Regions from separate parts of the Homo sapiens genome. Here all the other regions are linked to region 3. The links come from fine-mapping of genetic effects on gene expression. A gene starts in region 3. Each other region holds a variant in brackets. All regions are shown on one strand. Distances are from middle to middle.

What was found. PIP is the estimated chance that this variant, and not a neighbour inherited with it, causes the effect.
Region 1: its variant is fine-mapped to the expression of ERMP1 in whole blood (INTERVAL, PIP 0.97).
Region 2: its variant is fine-mapped to the expression of ERMP1 in blood mononuclear cells (TOPMed, PIP 0.91).
Region 4: its variant is fine-mapped to the expression of ERMP1 in thyroid (GTEx, PIP above 0.99).

What each region holds. Positions count from the first base shown.
Region 1 is chr9:5,875,501-5,878,187 of GRCh38, forward strand. No RefSeq gene overlaps it. Among named protein-coding and RNA genes, the nearest start is that of MLANA, 14 kb to the right of the region's middle. The variant T/C (reference allele first, on the strand shown) is at 1,290.
Region 2 is chr9:5,803,411-5,806,097 of GRCh38, forward strand. It overlaps ERMP1 (endoplasmic reticulum metallopeptidase 1), which reads right to left. Exons shown (of 15, transcript NM_024896.3): 9 at 2,201-2,375; 10 at 1,617-1,807. Among named protein-coding and RNA genes, the nearest start is that of ERMP1, 28 kb to the right of the region's middle. The variant T/C (reference allele first, on the strand shown) is at 1,273.
Region 3 is chr9:5,831,746-5,834,432 of GRCh38, forward strand. ERMP1 (endoplasmic reticulum metallopeptidase 1) reads right to left here and starts at 1,372. Exons shown (of 15, transcript NM_024896.3): 1 at 945-1,372. The coding sequence starts at 1,282. RefSeq lists silencers at 939-1,158, 1,239-1,458.
Region 4 is chr9:5,859,927-5,862,613 of GRCh38, forward strand. It overlaps a transcript of ERMP1 not described here. Among named protein-coding and RNA genes, the nearest start is that of ERMP1, 28 kb to the left of the region's middle. The variant A/G (reference allele first, on the strand shown) is at 1,403.

The DNA.
Region 1 (2,687 bases), 44 kb after region 3:
AGGCCCATGAAATGGCGTCTCATCTAGCCACAAGCCAAGTATGGATCTCAGGAAAGGGCTGGGCATGTGGCTCATGCCTGTGATTCCAACACTTTGAGAGACCAAGACAAGAGGGTTGGTTGAGGCAAAGGAGTTTGAGACCAGCCTGGACAATATAGCGAGATCCCCTCTCTGCAAAATCTTTGAAAACCAATAGGCCTAGCATGGTGGTGCATACCTGTAGTCACAGAGACTCAGCAGGCTGAGGCCGGAGGATTGCTTGAGGCCACAAGTTTGAGGTTGCAGTGAGCTATGATCACACCACTGCACTCCAGCCTGGGTGACAGAGTGAGACCTTATCTCTAAAAAATTTTAAATTAAAAAACAGATCTCAGGGAGGGAGGCTTACTCTCAACTGGAGTAAAGGAAACAGCAAGAGAGGCCATGAGCAAGGGAGCAGCGAGTCTGTGGCAGCAAGCAGTGGCTGCTCAGAGGGGCCATGGGGCAGGGGGAGCAGAAGCCCTGGGTGTGGGATCTTTCTCATGGCTTTGCTGGGAAGCTGTGGGTGGGCTCCCCAGTTGGGATTCACTTTTCAGGGACTTTTCTCTATCAGCTTGTACTTCTGTCCAGGTCAGAGACTGCATGGTTTTCAATCTTTAGCTTGTGTTGGAATTACCTGCAGAGCTTGTGAAAATACTGAAGGTTGAGTTTCTGATTTAGTAAGTCTGGGGTGGGGCCTGAGGGTGTGTTTTTCTAACCAGTCCCTAGGGGCTGTTGCTGCTGCCTGTCGAGGACTACATTTTGAGACCCATTGAACAGGAAGACAATTTTATTTTATGTGACACCATGGTAGGCATGTGTAGCCTCTCATGTAACACTCACCACAGCTCTGCTGGAGAGGTGCTGGACAGTTTGTGAACCTCTGTTATGGGTTGAATTGTGTCCACCAAAATATGTTGATGTCCTAACCCCCTGGACCTCAGAATGTGACTTTATTTGGAACTAGGGTAGTTGTAGGTGTAATTAAGATGGGGTCCTATTGGGGTAAGGTAATCTGATATGACTGGTGTCGTTATAACAAGATACAGAAACACAGAGAGTGAAGAATGCCACATGAGGACAGAGACAGGGAGAAGACAGCCATGTGACAATGGAGGTGCAAATTCGAGTGATGCACCCACAAGCCATAGAATGCTCAGCACTGCCAGGCACCAGCAGAGGCCAGGAGAGAAGGAAGGATTCTCCCCTATAGATTTCAGAGACAGCATGGCCCTGCTGACACCACGCTGTGGCCTTCTAGCCTCCAGAAC[T/C]GTGACACAGTAAATGTGTGTTGTTTTAAGCCACCCAATTTGTGTTACTTTGTTACGGCAGCCAGAGGAAACTAATACACTCTCAAAGCCAAACTAGCCTTAGGCTGTTCTCTCCAGGTGACTCAGCTGTTCTGTGAGTGCTGTGACTGCAACTGGCGGGACCTGGGATCCCTTCCTGAGTCAAAGAGAGCTATGGACATGAGGTGACCTGGTGCAGAAACATTGCCCAGTGGGGGCACTCTTTCCCGGATAGTGACGATTGGCCTAGCCAGCTCCTTTGACTGTGTGCGAGTGATAAAGAGGTAACAAGACGCATCAGAAGGAGCAAGCAGGGGGCATCCTGCAAAGCCATTCCAGCCACAGTCATCTCCTTAATGAAGAGGGGGCTTGTCCCAGGTCTCCAGGAAGCAGTTATGAAATTGTCCTGTTCTTCCTAATAATTAACTTATCTACCTCATCTGAGCAACCATTTGTGTGCCTCTCTTCTTTGCAATCTGGAAGGACCTAAAAAAATAAGAAGAATTCTAAATTAAAAATTACGATCTTCATTTCTCAGTTGAGCAAACTGAGGCTCAGAATGGTTAGGTAACTTATCCAGGGGCTAATAAACTGCAGAGATTGGTCTTAAACCCCTGGCTTCTATTTTACCATCGCATTCAAGTTATCTCTCAGGGGAAAGGCCCACGCAGAGTCTCTTGGTGTGAGGTGGCTTCTACTGTGAGCACCCCACATATCAGACTATGTGCCCTGCAGAATGCACAATGGCCACACCATGGGCTTGGGCAGGGGCCAGCAAGCAGTTTCCTCAACAAGCTACTAAGAAAAAGGTGGCTGCTCCCTCTCTGTCTTTGGCGCCCAGAGCTTGCCTCATTCTTGCCTCATGCATGTCTGCATCATTCATTCAACAAGCACTTATTAAATACCTTCTATGCTTCCCAGCCTTTGAGTGTTAAGGGTTCGTGCAGTTCTTTAATTTGAGGAGTTATCCTTCACACCCTTAACCACTAACTCAGTATCCCCCTCCCTAAGCAATCAATATGATTTTTACTATAGAGGAATTCATACAGGAAAGGGATTTATGCCTAAGGCTGTCCATGTATTGTCTGAAGAAGGTCTGCCTTCGAAAACATGTGTTCATGTGATGTAGACTATTAGAGGTTCAGAAAGGGAAACAGCAACTCAACAAGCTTTGGTGACTACTGAATCCAGTCCTTGGCATATCATAGGAGCTCAAGAAATGTTATGGACTAGTTGAAAGGATCTGGGCAATGCCTCTGTTAGAAATTATTTATCACCAGGACCAGTTAAAAATCAGTGTCTTCATTTATTTATTTACTTTTATTCATTCAAGAAATATCTATTGAGTCCCTACTGATAATGGAAAGGTGAATGAGTCAG
Region 2 (2,687 bases), 28 kb before region 3:
TCTGGTTTCCAAGATTTCCATGCTTTGGGGACATTTTCCATTTCCACAATGAACATCTCCAGGGTTCATTTTGCCCCCTTTCATATTATCAGTGGAACAGAATTTAAATGTCCCCTATCTGAGTCATCTTTTATGGACATCCATAGCTCCCATTCATGACTATAATTTAACAAATAAACGGGGGTGTGGGGGCATTCAGTTCATAACTAGTTGACTTCAGATTAGATTAGAACCTAATCTATAGATAACAAAAGTCCACTGTCTCCTTCAATCCTTACAACAGCAAACCTATCAAAAATACAGATGATATAAGGGTTACTATTAAACTCAAAAGCAGCAAACCCTACAGGCAGCAAAGAACATTTTAGAACTTTTCATACAGCCCTATGAATACCAATAAGGATTATCCTTATCCTTATATTATCCTTAATAATTATCCTATAAGTAAAATGGTTGGAAGGCTCAGATCTCTTTTAAGACTAGTACAACCAACCTCAAACAATAATATGCATAAGAATTACTCTACAGGACTATATACACAAAGTCACATATATAGAGCTTTACTGGCTATAAGGGACTTCCACGGATGATGCTGACCATGTGTGTAGTGTTTTCCTTACCTGCTGTCTTTAGAACCTAACTTCCACAAAGTAAAGGGGTAACGAATGCCCTTTACTATATCAGTATGAAAAGGCTCACTATCATCTCCATGAAGAAAAGAACTATAATAAAATCATAGCTCCTTTTCCTGTTTGGTTCCCTATCCTCAAATTTCAAGGTGCACCTCTGAGTGTTCAATAATTACTTTTTATTCTTAGGAATTCCCACCAAAAGAGACCTGCATTCTCTGGAGGGGCCCATCTTGGATCGTGGAGGTGGACATCAAACCAAAGCAAAACCTTGCTTGGGGCTTACTCTGCTCAAGGGGGGTCTGGTCTTAAACTCTGCATCACTGTCTTTTCTTCCCTCTGGGAATCCCAAGGGAAGAAAAAAAGGGATGGCAAACACAGGACTCTCCTTACTAGGGCAGGACACTGATACGGCAAAATGAGGACTGACAAGGCCTGTGATCATTTCATTATTTGGTAAATGAAGGCACGTTTGGGTGTCATAACAGACTCAATTAACAAGCTTTCATGTGGTAGCAACAAGGTAGTGGAATGATAATGAAAAAAGCCTCATCAGATTTAGTCTTCCTTCACTAGCTCTAAAAGCACTAATAAAACCACCCATGTATCTATTAACATGTGCCTCTAATTAGTAATTTCAAAA[T/C]ATACTATTAGGATCATTCACCACCAGGCAATCTCTAACAATTAATACTTGGTAAACGCTCTACAAATTCACACTCAGGTATCTGACAGGCTATTTGAAAAGAGGTAAATCAGAGAATTTGGAAGGATAGGGAGGCAAAAAACTTTTAAACAGCAACAACAAACTCTATACTACAGTTTCTTACGATACCAAATTTACAAGATGCATGGCCATTCATTCACCATTTCTTCTGCTTCAGATTTTCTCAATAAAGTACACGTAACACTATTTCACAGAATCTAGTATGGCTAAATTCATATTCATATAAAAAATGAAGAAAAAGAAAAAAACTTATTTTCTCTTACAAAATAGGACGAGAGAATCATTGTACAGCCAGCCAAAATGGATGCCAGCACAACATCAGGTGGGATTTCAGAACCACTTCTCCCGAGGATAGGGGTAAACATCTCAAATACTGCCCAGATGAGGTACAATGCATAAAGATAAGGAATAAACATCCCCAAAAGGTAAAAAGCAATAAATTTTCCTTGGGCACCTAGGGAAAAAGAGAAAAAAAGCACACATCTATGAAATCCTCCAGTGAGATATAAATTTTTATAGTACTGGTGTGCCTTGGTACCCTAACAGAAATTAGGTTAGATGTGACTCTTGCCCTTAAGGGTGTATGTTATCTTGGAGTAGGATCTTTCACTCAGGATAAAATACAAATAAGAATAAAGCAAAATACACAAGTAATATATTAGTATGTGTTCACAAACATGAGAAAGGGATGGAGTATAAGGCATAAGATAATTTGTGTGGTATGAAAACTTTTAAAAACTAACAATTTAGAAAGCCTACCCAATAAAACCAAAAAAGAAAGAGTCCCTGAAAGCCTTAAGTATTTTAAGGTATTCTCCCATGTATATCAAAATCAAAAATACCCTACCATGCTGCTTGAAGTCCTTATGCACACAGAGCTTTGTGAGCAATGGGAATGCTACCCAGACAGCACTAATAAACGCCGAGCAAAGTCCTTGGTAAGTGAGGGTAACAAGAAAACAGCAATGGACAAACAGCGAAATGTCAAAAAATACTTCTCCCAGATACTGGGCACTGGCATTCTGAAAGAAAGAAAAATATACAAGTAGTCTCATTCAGGGGTCATGCATAAAGAGCTTTTATTATAGTAACACACTTTCCATCACTCAGGAAAGCTACATTTTGTTTTAAACACAGTCTGCTCTTTAAACTGATTTAAAGTAAACACTAACAAAGCTACCTCCCCCATCATGAAGTAGTAAATTCAAATGTAGCACAAGAAAGGGCATTTTAACAATATAGAGTATAAATGCTCCATGTACTCTATGCTTTTCTTCTACTAGGCTAAAAGTAGAAATTTTCCAAAATAGAAGAAAGGACTCTCCTAAAAAACA
Region 3 (2,687 bases):
AATAAGGCGGGCGGGGGAAACTTTTGATGGACCTAGCCCTCCTAGCATACACCCAAGGTCTAATAACTTCAATTCAGGCCAAAACCAACTGTACCCCTAATGAAAACAAAACTGTTTTTGTCTTTTCACTGCATTCCAAGTGGGGAAAGCTGGAAGTGGGGGTGGGAGACGTTTCAGAAAGTCCTTAATAAGCTTGCAACACTTTGCATTCTAGCAAAAACTTTTTAGAACACAGTAGCTGTTGAAAACTTGACGCCAGCTTAACACTTCATGAGCTTTGACACACCTGGGTTACAATATCTTTGACTTAATCACCTTTCCTAGCATTCTTAAAGGTCTTAAAAAAAAAAAAAAAAGTCAAACCTTACACAGTCACTAATCCAAGGGGCCTAAAGATAAACTGCAGGGATCTGAGAATTTATCAGACTGCATACCAAATTTTGACTGGGCGGTGTTCCAGAAAGAGTTTCTATAGCCTTCAGATGTGGGGGCTGTAACCCTCAGAAAGTTAGAACAGTGCACTAGCGCCTTCCAAAACTCCCCGCCCCCAAAGCGAATTTATACAACAGTCTAGGTACACAAATTTCCATCTGGAAAGCAGAAGGGCTAAGCAAGGTAAAAAGGGGAAGCTGTTCCAGAATATGGGGAGACGACTCACAACCAACCATCTGCACGAAGGGCAGACAGTGGAAAGCAGGTTCAATCTACCTGGCAACCCCAATCTGCACCACGAGCTTAACCGGGGACAGGCAAGCCCCAAGTCCCGGCAATTCAGACCCCAGAAGAAGGACAAGCAAGGTCACCCCACCCCACGTGCAGCCTGGGAGGGGTCAGCGAGTCCCAGCGGTCCGGCAGGGGCGGGTGCACACAGGTGCGGTGCCCCGGAGCCTGCGCAGGAGCCGCAAACGGACGCGCGGGCCGTGCCAGGAGGGAGCGGCCGGTACCTGGCTTGGAGCGCGTCGAACTCCCCGCGGTGTCCAGCGGCCCCGCGTAGCACGAGCTGCTGCAGCGAGAGCTGCACCAGCGTCCGCAGCGCGATCAGGTAGAGCGCGAGCCCCAGCGCGGCGCGCACCTCAGACAGCCCGGTCCCCGCGCCCCTGCTCGCGCCGCCGCTACCCCCGGGGCTCCTCTTCCGCGTCCTCCCGCCGCCGCTGCACCCATCCACCAGAGGCTCCTGCGCTCGGGCCTCCCTCTCCGGCGGTGGCGCGGCCGCCGCTCCCTCTCGACGCTCTACTCCGACGCGGTGCCGCCTCACAGCAGCCGACTCAGAACCCCACTCCATGGCCACGAGCCTCAGCTGCCAGCCCAACCGCCCCAACCCGCGACAGCCCCGGCCGCCGCCGACGCCGCCGTCGCTGCCGCAGCGCCTCCTAGTGAGCGGACGGAAACTGCAGAGGGCCAAACTTCTTCTGATTGGCCCGTCCCGCCGCGCCAAGACCCAGCTTCTTTGGCAGTTCTCGGGTGCACACAGCTGCAGGGCCGACCCAGCAGCGGGTGGTGGATATGCCGTCTCCCGCAGGGCTTTTCCAGCCCTCTGTAGGACGGAGATTGCCAAATGTAAAGACACCTAAAAACCCAAAACGAGAAAAATGAGAGATCGCTTTTGAAAGAACACACAAGGCTCTTACAGTGCATCAGGCAGATGAAAAAAGCAATGACCTGGCTTTCGTAAGGAAGGAATATTAGAACATCAGGCTCCAAAAAAGTGGGTTCCTGGCTCTTAAAATTAGAAATAAGATTACGCAGAGGAGGCCCGGCCTATTGCTTTCACATGCATAATCTAATCAGATCTTCATAACTCAGCAACTTAATCTGTGCTATTACTGTCTCCATTTAACAGATAAAGAAAAATAATGGCTATTATTTATTGAATACCTGCTATGAGCTAAGCGCTAGGTCAAGTCCTTTAATACATCATCTTATTTAATTATCTTTAACAATACTTAAAAGGAAATATCTTTGTTCCCATTTTATAACCTGAGAAACGTAGAGATAACAGATGAAGAATGTAAATCTAATTTCATGGGCTCCCAAAACAGCATTCTGTTCCACTACTACATTAGCACTCTGCAAGTGAAGGTTCAGAAAGGCCATTCTTCACTTGACGACTCTCTGGGGCGGTTAAGCAGCAGAGCCTTGGTTTCAGTGCAGATCCTAGTGATTATCTAGTCTTCTTCCAGCTTGCCGGTACCCATGAGCCTCTCTGCTCCAAGGTTTTTTGTCCCTAGCTTGGAGTTGCTACATTAGCATGAGCATTAACCTAGAGACCAACTGGGAGAGCACACTGCCGGATTTTGACTTAGCACATATGTCAGATTTCATACAATGCCCTATAGTCCTGCTCTTGCCCACCTCTCAGGCTCCTCTGACACCAGGATGCTTCTTATTTCCAGCTCTCCAGCCACACTGGCCTCTTTCAAAGACTTCCTGCACGCATCTTTCCTTCTACAATAGGATCTTCTCACATGCTGTTTGAATTACCTGGAGTGTTCTTCTCTCTCCTCATTGTCTTTTTAACTCCTAGTTATCCTTTAAATCTCAGATTAAGTGGTACTTCCTCAAGCAAGAATCTCCTAATTTAATTAAGCTTGCTTCCCCTATTTGTAGGATCTCACAGCACCATGTTTGCATGTGACTATTTCATAACTTCCTCATTAGACTGTAAGCCCCACGAAGGCAGGAATCAG
Region 4 (2,687 bases), 28 kb after region 3:
TACACAGGTCTTAGTACCAGAATTTTTAATATCTTAATAAAGAATTCTTACATGCTAAATAAGCTCAACTTAAGTTTATTAAGAAAGCATTGGTCAGGCACAGTGGCTTATGTCTATAATTTCAGCACTTTGAGAGGCTAAGACTGGAGGATTGCTTGAGCCCAGTTTGAGACCAGCCGGGGCAGTATAGTGAGACCTTGTCTCTACCAAAAAAAAAAAAAAGTTTTAATTAGCCAGGTGTGGTAGTGCATACCTGTAGTCCCAGCTACTTGGGAGGCTGAGTCAGGAGGATTGCTTGAGCCCAGGAAATAGAGGTTGCAGTAAGCTGTAATTGTGCCACTGTCTGCAGCCAGACCCTGTTTCCAAAAAAAAAAAAAAGAAGGAAGGAAGCATTTATATTTATAACTGGGATAAATGCACTGTCAGTATTTTAGGGATGAAGTTTACTGCCAGCAAGCACAGTGAGGGCAGGAGCTCTGTTCCATTCATCTTTATGTCTCCAGTGTCTGGCCAGCTGTACATTAATATAAATATGGATGGATAAGTGAGTAAATGAATGAAGCTCAGAGCCATAACGTATGGGCTCAATTGCTCATAACGTAACCAATGGCAAGTGACATACTACATGTTCTCTCTCTAGTGGCCATGAAAGTTGCAAGGACAATTTTATCAACTTCAGTCCACAATTTTTTTTTTTTTTGTAGAGATCGGGGGGTCTCACTCTGTTGCCCAGGCTGGCCTCGAACTCCTGGCCTCAAGCAATCCTCCTGCCTCAGCATCCCAAAGTGCTGGGATTACAGGCATAAGCAACCATATCTGGCCTCATTAAAAAAAAACTGTAGAGACAGTCTCCCTGTGTTGCCCAGGCTGGTCTCAAACTCCTGGTCTCAAGTGATCTTCCTGCCTCAGTCTCCCAGTAATCATGATAATGGATTACTATGGTGGCTGGTTCCCTATAAAAGGGTCATTTCACTGTCCCACCTCCACCCTCTCTCACTCTCTCTCCTTCTGTCATGTGATAATGTAGCAAGAAGGCCCTCACCAGATGCCAGCACCTTGATATTGGAGTTCCAGCCTCCAGTACTATGAGCCCATACATTTCTGTTCATTGTAATTTCCCAGTCTGTGGTATTCTGTTATAGCCACACAAAATGGACTGAGACAGGGATCTAGTAAGAAGCTATGCTCTCTGTCAAAATGTTTCTGCATTTCTGAGAGGCAGTGAACCCACAATGGCTTAGGGGGTGTGTGTGTGTGTGTGTGTGTGTGTGTGTGTGTGTGTGTGTGTGTGTGTAAAAGCTAAGAAAAAGTAAAGTACTGGAGAGGGAAAAAAAATCAGTTAATAACTCAAAGTATTATCCCAGGATGTCATCATTGGCCTTAGCTGTGCTGAATTTGGGTG[A/G]AAAAAAAGTAAGATTTAAGGAAATATATTCTACACTCTTTCTACTCAAGGTACAGGGTTGAGTTTTCAAAATCATACTTGCTGGGTTTTTTTTTACTATTTTATTGAGGTATTCAGTACCACCTTTAACAAGGAGAAAGCAGGAGCCATGTGTGTCAATCTTGATTAAAGACCTATTTGTCTTCTTTTACAGATGGCACTAAAAGCAGATTCCTTTCTCACTAAGAAGTGGACAGTTAACTGTAGACTTAGATGCACAAGACAGGGCCTCTGGAAACCTGGCAAGAGACGGAGATGGAAAGTACTAAGCCAGTAAGGGGCCCTAGGGCTCCACTCTCTTCCCAGTGCAGGCAGAGCTCTAGTGTTGACCCCAGAGAAGAGAGGAAGGGTTTTTTTTTTTTTTTTTTTTTTTTGGTCTGCCCAGAAAAAGAATAGTCCAAGGTCAAAGGATCTCAGCAGGTGCAACAGCAACATCAGGGGAGGGGGACTGCTCATTCTGTTTCTCCAGGCCACCCTGGGGAGATGGCTCCTGGCCCTTCTCTTTTCATGGGGCCAGTTGAGTGTAGTCCCTCCTGTTACCAAAAGTGGTCAGATAATCAGGGGCTGTCCCTCTAGACACAATCCAACCACTAGTCCTTTAAAAGTTAAAGTTTTTTAAAAAATCACATTTTAATTTTTTTTTTAAAAAAAGTATGTATGTATGTATGTATTTATTTATTGAGACAGGGTCTCCTTCTGTCACCCCAGCTGGAGCGCAGTGACACAATCATGGCTCACTGCGGCCTCTACCTCCTGGGCCCAAGTGATCCTCCCACCTCAGCCTCCCAAGTAGCTGGGACCACAGGTGTGTGCCACCATGCCTGGTTAATTTTTAAATTATTTTTGTAGAGATGGGATCCCCCTATGTTGTCCAGGCTGGTCTTGAACTCCTGGCCTCAGGTGATCCTCCTGCCTCAGCCTCTCAAAGTGCTGGGATTACAGACATGAGCCACCATGCCTGACCTACTTATTTATTTATTTTAGAGACAGAGTCTCACTCTGTCATCCACACTGGAGTGCAGTGGTGCAATCATAGCTTATTGCAGCCTCGAACTCCTGGATTCAAGAGATCCTCTCACCTCAGCCTCCCAAGTAGCTAGGACTACAAGTGTGTGCCACCATGCCCAGCTAATTTTTTAATTTTTTGTACTTTTTATTTTTTGTAGAGATGGAGTCTCTGTGTTGCCAAGGCTGGTCTTAAAGTCCTGGCCTCAGGCTGTCCTTTTGCCTAAGCCTCTTAACATGC